Linked DNA regions of Homo sapiens: region 1 is linked to region 2. Evidence: fine-mapped expression QTL. A gene starts in region 2. The other region holds a variant in brackets. All regions are shown on one strand. Distances are between the middles of the regions.

Region 1 (5,391 bases), 27 kb after region 2:
ATTATATGCCTAGAAAACCCTAAAGACTTTACAAAAAGTTTCCAAAACTGATAAACAACTTCAGTAAAGTTTCAGGATACAAAATCAATGTACAAAATTCAGTAGCATTTCTAAACAATAATGTCCAAGCTGAGAACCAAATCAAGAACACAATCCCATTTTCAATAGCGACACACACACACAAATGAAATACCTAGGAATACATCTAACCAAGGAGGTAAAAGATCTCTATAAGGAGAATAAAAAAACACTATTGAAAGAAATCGGAGATGACACAAATGAATGCAAAAACATTCCATGCTCATGGATTGGAAGAATCAATATTGTTAAAATGTCCCTACTGCCCAGAGCAATCTACAGATTCAATGCTATTCCTATCAAACTACCAACATAATTTTCCACACAAAGTTAGAAAAAGCTTTTGTAAATTTCATATGGTACAAAAAAAAAAAGCCCCAATAGCCAAAGGACTCCTAATAAAAAAGAACAGAGCCAGAGGCCTCACATTATCTGACTTCAAACTATACTTTAAGGCTACAGTAATCAAAACAGAATGGCATTGGTACAAAAACAGACATATAAACCAATAGAACAGAATAGAGAACCCAGAAATAAAGCCACACATCTACAGCCATCAGATATTCAATAAAATTAACAAAAATAAGCAATGGGGAGAGAACTTTCTATTCAATAAATGGTGCTGGAATAGCTAGCTAGTCAGAAGCAGAAAAATGAAATTGGACTCCTATCACTAAATACAAAAACTAACTCAAGATGCAGTAAAGAATTAAATGTAAGACCACAAACAATTAATACAAGAACCCTAGAAGAAAACCTAGGAAATACTGTTGTAGACATCAGTCTTGGCACAGAATTTAGGACTAAGTCCTCAAAAGCAACTGCAACAAAAACAAAAATTGATAAGTTGGACCTAATTAAACTAAAGAACTTCTGCACAATAAAAGAAACTATCAACAGAGTAAACAAACAACCTACAGACTGGGAGAAAATATTTGCAAACTATGCATCTGAAAAGGTCTAATGTCCAGAATCTGTAAAGAACTTAAACAACTCAACAAGCAAAAGAAACCAAGTAACGCCATTAAAAAGTAGGCAAAGAACATGAACAGATGCTTCACAAAAGAAGACATACAACGCAGTCAAGAAACATATGAACAAATGCTCCACATCACTAATTATCCAAGTAATGCAAATCAAAACTACAGTGAGATAATATCTCATACCAGTTACAATGGCTATTATTAAAGATTAAAAAAATAACATGCTGATGAGACTGCGGAGGAAAGAGAATGCTTAAATACTGTTGGAAACGTAAATGGGTTCAGCCACTGTGGAAAGCAGTTTGGAGACTTCTCAAAGTACTTAAAATGGAACTACTATTCAACCTAGCAATCCTCTTACTGGGTGTATACCCAAAGGAGTATAAACTTTTTTCCCAGAAAGACAGCTGCACTCTCACATTAATTACCACAGTATTCACAATAGCAAAGATGTGGAATCAACCTAGATATCCATCAATGGTGGATTGGACAAAGAAACTGTGAGATATATATGTATATATATCTATATATACCATGGAATACTATGTAGCCATAAAAAAGGATGAAATCATGTCCTTTGCAGCAACATGGATGTAACACCACAAGGAAGGCACTTTTATCTCCTCTTTACAGGTAAGAGAACCAAGCTTCTGAAATTAAGGTCCATAGCTGGAAAATGATGGAGGGGAGATTTGAAGTCATCTAGGCAACTCCACACATGTGCTCTTTCCACTAAATTGTTCTACTGTCAGGAAGGGACTCAGCTAAGACAGAAGATAAAATTATTAAAATCTAAATCAATTCTTCTCTCATTTCATTTTTTAAATCCATGAAGATTATAAATCCTCTATGCTGTGCTAGCTAACTTTTTCTTGACAGATACATTAGGTATACTTATTAGAGAAAAATATTCTCTTTCTCATTTCCCTGTATCAGTTTTTGGTGAGGAAGGCAAAGGTAGGAGGAACTGTAATAGAGAAAGATGAAGGAAGCTGATGGATATATTGACATGTGTATGTACATCTAGTGTGAACAATCTATAGTTGGAAGAAAGGTGTGGATGGGTATGCTTTTTGAGGGAAGTTTTTGAGAAAAGAAGTAATATGAACTATTTCTAAATTTCCTGATAAAGTTGTAAATACAGCATAGTCTTCACAGGAGAATCTATTTAGTTTATCATCATCATTCAGCAAATACAGCATGATGTTAGGCACTA[C/T]AAAAGGCTAAGAAAAATGATTCTCTCTCTCTCATAAACTAATCCAATTTAGAGATTTAGAAGACAACAAATCTGGAGAGGACATGAACCTTCTAAATAATGACCTTCCCTTGCTTTGGGTATCCTGGTTTTAAATATTTTTAGTACAGCTTTAAATAGATCCAAATGAGATATTTTCCTCTTTTACAAAAGCAATTCAAAGATCTAGGTTTTTGTTGTACACTGAGAATTAATACTTTTTTCTTTAAAATCCTTAATTGCAAATCTTTAAATTCTATAAATATTTTGCCTTGTGATCTCAGAAATATAAGCCAATTTGGGATATGGATATCTAATATATTGCTACTTGTTACACGTGAGTAGTGACAGATGTCTGTCCATTTCTTTCTGACATTCCACAAAGAAACACTGAAGAAGGACCAGTGCAATCAAAGAAATGACTGATGGCATCACAAAATATCACATCCCATTTGATGATCTGATTACCTTTTTGTTTAGGGTGATCAGAAAGTCACAGTTTCATGGCACCCTCCACACCCACACACCTTGTATGACACTGGATCCAACTGCTTTCTCCAATAGACACAGCACTTAAAGATGTGGCAGTTAGGCTTGACCCCAAGAAGGCCAAAAAGCCTTCTGTGAGCATCACTCAGTGCTCAGGTTGACTAAGCTCTATCCAGGCTTGAGAGAATGGTTCATAGCTGACTTCTTGGATCCAAAAAAAAAAAAAACACCTAGAGTTTTATACAGATATGATACGAACTTAAAAGGACTGCACTAAAAACTACCAAGATTATGATTCTTATTTTTGGAGAGTAAAGAAAATAGGCTGCCTTTGGAGAGGGGTGCAACAGTTTCTGATCCTCTTACAAACTGCTTGCTGCCCATCAGTGGGTAGGAGGTCTTAGTGAGAACCTACCTGCATGCTCATCCTGAGGTAGGCACTGTGAAGGCGTTAACAGGCTCTGAAGCTACATGGCCCTGGTTTCAGTGAACTCTGTGGTGTCAACTTGGGCAAGTCACTTCCTCTTCTATGAAACGTGAATAATCATAGTACTCACCTTAGAGGGCTGATTTGAAAGCAAATGAGCTCAAACACAATGACATCTGTGCTTGGTGCATATATGGCAGACAACAGTGATTCCCACTATTATAATTATTACAGTCTTACCAAGGAGGAGCTTTCCACAAATAATCAATTACCTAAAATGTCCAAAAACAGGAAAAAAAAATCTCTTCCGATAATTCATGTGTAATTTTCTTTTTTCTCTAGGAGCATTGATCTCAACCTGATGTAAAGCAAGCACTTTAAAAAGTCTTATAAAATTTTCCTGGTAAATGCAAAACTTTCTGATAAATAAATTCTCACCTTTTTATCAATTTGTTAATTCAACAAAAATATACTACATACCAACAGCATGCAAAGCACTATGTTAGATTTTATAGACTATGAAAAGATAAATTGCCATCTCTATGCATAAAGGGTTTGCCGTTTAATAAAAGAGACTATATATTTGCATAAATATATAGTGAATATATTGCATAAATATATAATATATGTTTACATTAAAGAATAAAAGGTATAAGAGGGATAAGAAAAATTGAGACAGAGGGAAGACAGGTCAGTTTGAGATTAACGAATATCCCCAAAGAAGGTATTATCTGAGATTGGCCTTGAAGGATAGTTGTGATTCAGGAACACAGAACTTGCAGAATGAGAAGGTTGTTACAGACCAAAGGAACAGCCTGAGAGGCGTGAGTATGCAGGAAAATGAGGGCCATGCCTGAAAGTACTGGTGGTGTTGAAGATGGAGCCAGGCAAGTTGGTCACAGAGGGAGAGGACCTTGAATGTCTAACATTGTGGACAGAGGCTCAAAGGCTCAAATTCCCTATTTTTACCTTGAGTTCAATCCTTGTGGCAATGAAACCTCAGTGAAGCTTTATTTAAGGCTAAAAGTGTCTTTTAAAAATCCCTCTTATATAATATCCTTTGCATGTTACTCTTGTTGTAATTAGGAGAAAGCAATAGGATCTAAAGTTTTTTTTCACAGCATGGTTTTGGTTTCTTTAATTCTAAGGAGCTCACCTGGTGTTACGTTGGAAAAAACAGCTTTTATATCTCATTTATATTCCATATGCCAGTCTGCAGTGACATATCTATCTGAGGTTTACAGTGTTAGCCACAAAACACTCCCTAAGTGAATACATTGACTGCTGTAAGGGGAGCCAGTCAGGAAGCACCTGCAGAGAAAAGCAGGCAACATGTATAAACAGAGTTAATTCAGGAATGAAAGCTGAATGGCTGGGCGAGTCTGTTTGTTTGAGTTGACAGCCTCTCCCTCACTCTTTCATTAAATATCCAACTAACCTTCAATTGCCCTCTTGGAACTTAATCTCAGTGTAATTTCCAGCATGTCAAAATTATCAAGCAGAAAGAGATACTACCCTGAAAGAGGGTCTTTTGTTCAATGCTAGGAGACAAACTCCAACTACAAAATTCTAGAAATGCCCTAAAGAGAGAGATAGGATAGATTTACAAATTGCTAATGCTATTAGGTTGTATAGATAACAATAGATTTATAACAACCTGGCACACAACTTTAAATATATAAGTTTCTCTGAAACTTCTGGGAACTTGGAATGCCAGAACGTTGGCAAAAAGAATGCTTCTAATAATGAAAGCCATCATCTGCCATGGAAACAATTTCAGGGTCTTTAGAAAGCTAGTTTATACATAAGCTCCATTCTACAATAAAACTTATGTTCATGTTTTTTCTGATTTTCCTCCTGCTGTAAATTCATTTTATCAGAATTCTTTTTACCAGTCCCTCTGCCCCATTTCTCAAAGCGTTGTCCTCAGACTACCTGTATCACCTAAAGATTCTAAGGCCTCCTCCGATGTAGTAAATGAGACTTTTCTAGAGAGAGAGTCCTAGAATTTTATAAAGAAGGATCCTTTTTATTATTGTGATCACCAAAGTTACTTCTGCCTAGATTCTTCTCATGTTATTTTTACAGCTCCTATCTTCCCAGACAACCTAACAATTCAAAGATAAAATTGGTGCTTGGTTTAGACATTCATAGCAGGCACGGTGCCAGATTGATGATGT
Region 2 (5,391 bases):
TTTGTACATATATTACTATTCTTAGTGCAGAAAAATTAAGTACAGAAAGTTAGGTAATTTACTCAAATCCATAATTATTAGAAGACAGAAATTTGGTTCTGGTTCTTTCAAAGTTGTGTTTCTTGTTTGCTATGTCATATTGCCTGCCTCCTGTTGGCCTATAGCTTATTAAACTCCCACTGCCAATTCTGGAGTTTATGCTGATATTCAGACATTTAGTCTTCTACACTCCTGCAATGAAATAGACAGAAAGCTAAGATGCCAGATTGTATTAGGATGCACAGAGAGATTCTGAACAAAATTCTTATGTTCTGCCACACTGACATTCATAGCAGTCATCATTTTACCTTAATGTAGTCCATGATTCCCTTCTTATTTGTACCAGATAGTGTGAGGGGCATTTTGCATATACTGTTTCCTATAATTCCTACAATAGTCTGGAAAGCTATTATTCATTCCATTTACGGACAAGGAAGTTAAGACACAAAAATGCCAACCAGCAGCTAGAGAGTAAAGCCAGGATTTGCAGGCTGGTATATCTCTCTCCAAAGTTAGAGCTCTGTCTATGAGGACTTCTGCCACTCACAATGGAAGCCGTTGTTTATTGCCATTTTGCTAGACAGTTTCACATACATTATGCAATTTAACACTCACAAAGGTCCTGCATATAGATGGTATCAACCCATTCTAAATAGGAGAAAAATTATGCTCAAGGGATTTAAGTAATCTGCTCAAATTAACTAGCAGAGTCAGAATTCCATTCTAAGTCCATGCCCTATTCACTATTCCATGAAGCACTATGCCAGAAGAAAAGGAGGAAAAAGAGGGAAAGGAAGGAAAAGGAAGGAAAGAATGTTCCTATGTGTGTTCCTTGTATAGTTCACTAGAATAACCTTCACTAAGGTTTTGTCTGTTAAATATTAGGTAAGAAAACATATGCAAATGAAATACAGTCCTAATAATAATAGCCGATGTTTCTTCTTGCTTCCATTGCAAGAGGCACTATTTTAAACATTTTACATGCACAGCATTAACTCATATATGTTTCACAAAAACCCTAAAAGATGATAATTAATATTATTCCTATTTTACAGACATGGAAACTTCTGAGATTTGAACCTTGGCACTCCTAGAGAGCCTATGCACTTAAAGCACTCTGCTGTACTGTGTAAAAAGATTTCAAATGTGCTTTCTCCAAGTGCTAGAAGCAATGACTTGGAAAACCTCTATTTAAAGTAGTGTTCCCCCTTAAATGGGTACCATTTGGTTATAAGGTATGAACAAGAAACACTAAATATTTTCGTCCTTCGTGCAATTGGTAAAAAGAATAAGGGAGATCTGGGCCGGGCGCGGTGGCTCACGCCTGTAATCCCAGCACTTTGGGAGGCCGAGGCAGGCGGATCAACAGGTCAGGAAATTGAGACCATCTTGGATAACACGGTGAAACCCCGTCTCTACTAAAACTATAGAAAAAAAAAAAAAAAACACTAGCCAGGCGTGGTCCTGTAGTCCCAGCTACTTGGGAGACTGAGTCAAGAGAATGGCGTGAACCCGGGAGGCGGAGCTTGCAGTGAGCCGAGATGGGGCCACTGCACTCCAGCCTGGGCGACAGAGGGAGACTCCGTCTCCAAAAATAAAAAGAATAAGGGAGATCTGTTTTCCCCAAAATGGAATGATATTCACAATGTTAAACGAATACAACCAAACTGCACAATAATGTATACAATGTGATACTTTTAAATTAAAATGCATAAATGTTTTTTATGCATTATAAGCATTAACACCCCTTCTCCTAACACTAGGTGCTTCTGAGGGAGAAGGAAAGGGACCAAGAGTAGGACATTGTCAAACATGGTTTTAGTCTCATTTTTTACAAAGAACATGTATTAATATGTTGTTTGTCTAATTGAAAATGTTTATTTCTTCTCTTTTTTTCATTCTGATAAATGTCTGTCAATGTTTTATCACATTAAGTCATTTGGGGAAACATATAGTTTTATATTAATTTATTTGCCTGTACTCTCAGAAGTGGGTATTTAAAAAAACTATTATGTATTAGTAAATTCACTATGCTTCTGTAAGATACCTGCTGTTCAACATGAATTTATGGAATATTTCTTGAGTTATATTTTTATTATGTATTTAGATTTTAAGATCTGTTTGTTTTTATCTAGAGCTTTTATGTGACAGTTTCTTTAAAATACTTATATACCTACCATAATCTTCTTTAAATTCTTAATTCTAGTACATTCCTAAGGTATTTCTCATTCTAATCTTTGTAACCAGTTTCTCCTCCTTTAACAAAATTAGTCCATACTAAAAAAATATTGCTTTCTTGTTGGGACTATCCTGTCTCTGGCTTTCTTCAAGGCCTTCTATGGGTTGAAACTTCTCTGTTCAGACTTGTCAAACTAGTTTCATTTCAACTACTTGTAATTTGTTTCCTTATTTCTTTGAGCCGTAGACTTCTAATACATCTAGAGATGTCATATAGTTGATTAGAAAGTTGAGTTCAGTGGGTGCAGACCTGCAAGATCATATTCTTCCTCCTGTACATGATGTATCGGTAAGTTCAGTTCTGTTTTATAGATGGCTTGTTTGATGTACTGTCTGTCAGTGGCCGGATTCCTGATGTGTAAGAGGACTGCTAGTGAGGTGTCTTTGGTGGATTCAATCTGCACTGGATTTTTTTAAATTTCTGGAATTATCATAGCATCCTGGATTAATTAATTTCTGTGTTTGAAATCAAAGTTTTTGTATAAAAATTGTTAGCATTATTTCATGTGGCCAAGTTCAATAGTTAAGATTTTAGAAAAGGTTAATGAAAAACTATATTACATTGTGTCTTAATTGGTTTTGATTTTTTTGTGTGTGTGGAAGGAGGGTGTTTATATGTTTTAAAACAAGCCTTCTTTCAGCAATATTGACAAAATTTAGCTTCTATAGCGTTTTCTCTTTCGCTGTGTTTACTTGTCCCTTATGGTGGGTCCTTGTGGGACTAATGCAGATTGAGAGGTAAATAGCTGCAGAGACACCTGCCTCCATTGTAGAAGACCCAGGGCTTCCATGTGGGAGAATGAGAAAACAAGCTCAATACTGGGAAAACATGCCTATTCTCTACAATTCTTCCTATTACGTTTTGAAGAAAAAATACATGAATTATTTGGGTATTGTTTTTCAAAATGGGGTATGCCATGTGCAAAGAATATGAAAAAATAAGATTCCTTGGCATAACTTTATATACAGTTAAAATAGTGATTTTAAACAGCCATGATGATAATAATATTTCACCATTGTTTAGACTTGTACTATTTTTGAAACATCTTTATGTATGTTATTTCCTTTAATAGCCAAGACAGCCTTGTGGCTAAGTAGAACAAGTATCACAAGTATCGTTAACTCCCATTTTAAAGCAAGGAATTTGAGGAAAACAGAAGTTAGGGGACGTCTCCAGGTCTAGAGGGCTGTCAGAAGCCAGAATCATGGCTATAATTCCTTGCAGTCCTCAACTCCTTGGAGTCGAGTCTTCCTTATCAGCTACTGCAGCCTGTCTGGGTGGCAAGGATTCCATCCAGTGAATTTCAGAGATGATAATTTGATACGAGATTGGCCACTAAGTTAGTGAACTTCACTAGGTTTCCTTCCCCACTCACAAAATGCATGTTTGCATCAGTCCTTCAGTAATCACATAGTAATTGACAAAAAGTCTCTGAGACCCTCAGAAAGGGTCTTCAATGCTTCAAACATAACCAGTACTCCATAAATATTTGTTGAACAAATGAATGGGCAAGCAGATGTAAATATCTAGCATTAATGTTTGACTGTTAAAAAATTATTTTAAAAATTAATAATTTACTATTAAATTATTAAAGTATATTGAATGTGAAAATGCATATCCATGTTTATAGAATCATGATATTGTAAAACAGGATTTCCAGTTTTTCATATTTCATATTCTCCAAATCACTCTTTTAAAATATCAAGCTCATAATTATGGGCACCAAAAGTGTCCTTTTCTATGAACATTAATATATTTATAGGAGTGTTTGCAGCTTAGGGATGTAAATTACAAGGGTAGAATCAGTGGTCAATGCCATTGTTCCAGACATCAGTGACACCTGCTGATAAAGGAAACAGGCTGGGCGTGGTGGCTCATGCCTGTAATCCCAGCACTTTCGGAGGCCGAGGCAGGCAAATCACTTGAGGCTAGGAGTTAGAGACCAGCCTGGCCAAGATAGTGAAACCCCATCTCTACTAAAAATACAACAATTAGCCGGGCATGGTGGCGCATGCACCTGTAGGCCCAGCTACTTGGGAGGGTGAGGCAAGAAAATCACTTCAACTTGGGAGTCGGAGGTTGCAGTGAGCCAAATCATGCCACTACACTTCAGCCTGGGCAACAGAACAAGACTCTGTCTCAAAAAAAAAAAAAAAAAAAAAAAAAAAAAAAAAAAAAAAAAAAAAAGGAAAAGAAAAGGAAAGGAAAGAAAAGAAAAGAAAGGAAAAAGAAAGGAAATGGTGGGAAACATTGAATGGTTATGGTTTCTTTAAGCCAAATTCATGCAATATTAATTTAGGATTTGGAAGATTTGCAGGAGATGTCAGGTCACACCAACAAGTAGGCTTAAGGATTGAGGCAAAGCAGATGGTTAATAATTACTACAATACCCTATGTCTCACCCACAGTCATTCTACAATATGTTCTACAGTCATGCTAGCCATTCTTACTTCTCCATTAACAAGAAACATAATATGGAAGCCTTGTCAAATATATTCGATTTGTATCCTTGCTCTTTCTGCTATCATGAACCTTGGATCTCTTCTCTATGGGTTCTGTTACCCTCTTCTGTGTATTGCAGGGATTCTTTCTGTTTTGGTGTGAATCTGTTTGAATTTTCCTTTAAGAATAGCCATACACCTACTTTTTCCTACACTTTTGTTAATTGCATGATTCACTCACTTAAGTACCTCAATTATCTTTGTTACAAAAGATAAAATACCAAATGACTTCTTCAGGTGAGATTCTTATCCTGTTCCCAGAAGTCTGGCATCTCTTTTTCCCATAGCTCTTTATTTTCAGCATTGTTTAATAAATGCAAAAAATCAGAATTCTCCTCTTCCTCATCACCTTTAGACAAAAAGATAGTACTGGGCAGGTCCTTTGTATGCTTTCATGTTTTACATTTTAATTTCACTTCAGTTGATTGTTTTAATCAACTTTTAATTTGCCATGAGCAATTCCTAATATATTCTAAAATTATACCTTCAGAATTAAAACAAAAATAGCAAACTCACCATGTTAGTTACTAATTACTAAACTTGTTATAAATTATCAATTAAAAATTACTTTTTGGTTTAGTTTTCAGCAAACTCATAGTGCTTACTATAAAT

Direction of the effects. Positions count from the first base shown, and alleles are read on the strand shown. Sizes are in standard deviations (SD) of each study's normalised expression.
As copies of C replace T in region 1, the expression in testis of the gene that starts at base 2,456 in region 2 goes down (small effect, 0.37 SD a copy in GTEx).

What was found. PIP is the estimated chance that this variant, and not a neighbour inherited with it, causes the effect.
Region 1: its variant is the best candidate, but not a certain one, in a credible set for the expression of TMPRSS11A in testis (GTEx, PIP 0.60).

Annotation. Positions count from the first base shown.
Region 1 is chr4:67,933,955-67,939,345 of GRCh38, reverse strand. All of the region lies in intron 3 of TMPRSS11A (transmembrane serine protease 11A), which reads left to right. Among named protein-coding and RNA genes, the nearest start is that of TMPRSS11A, 27 kb to the left of the region's middle. The variant C/T (reference allele first, on the strand shown) is at 2,278.
Region 2 is chr4:67,960,558-67,965,948 of GRCh38, reverse strand. TMPRSS11A (transmembrane serine protease 11A) reads left to right here and starts at 2,456. Exons shown (of 10, transcript NM_001114387.2): 1 at 2,456-2,566. The coding sequence starts at 2,556.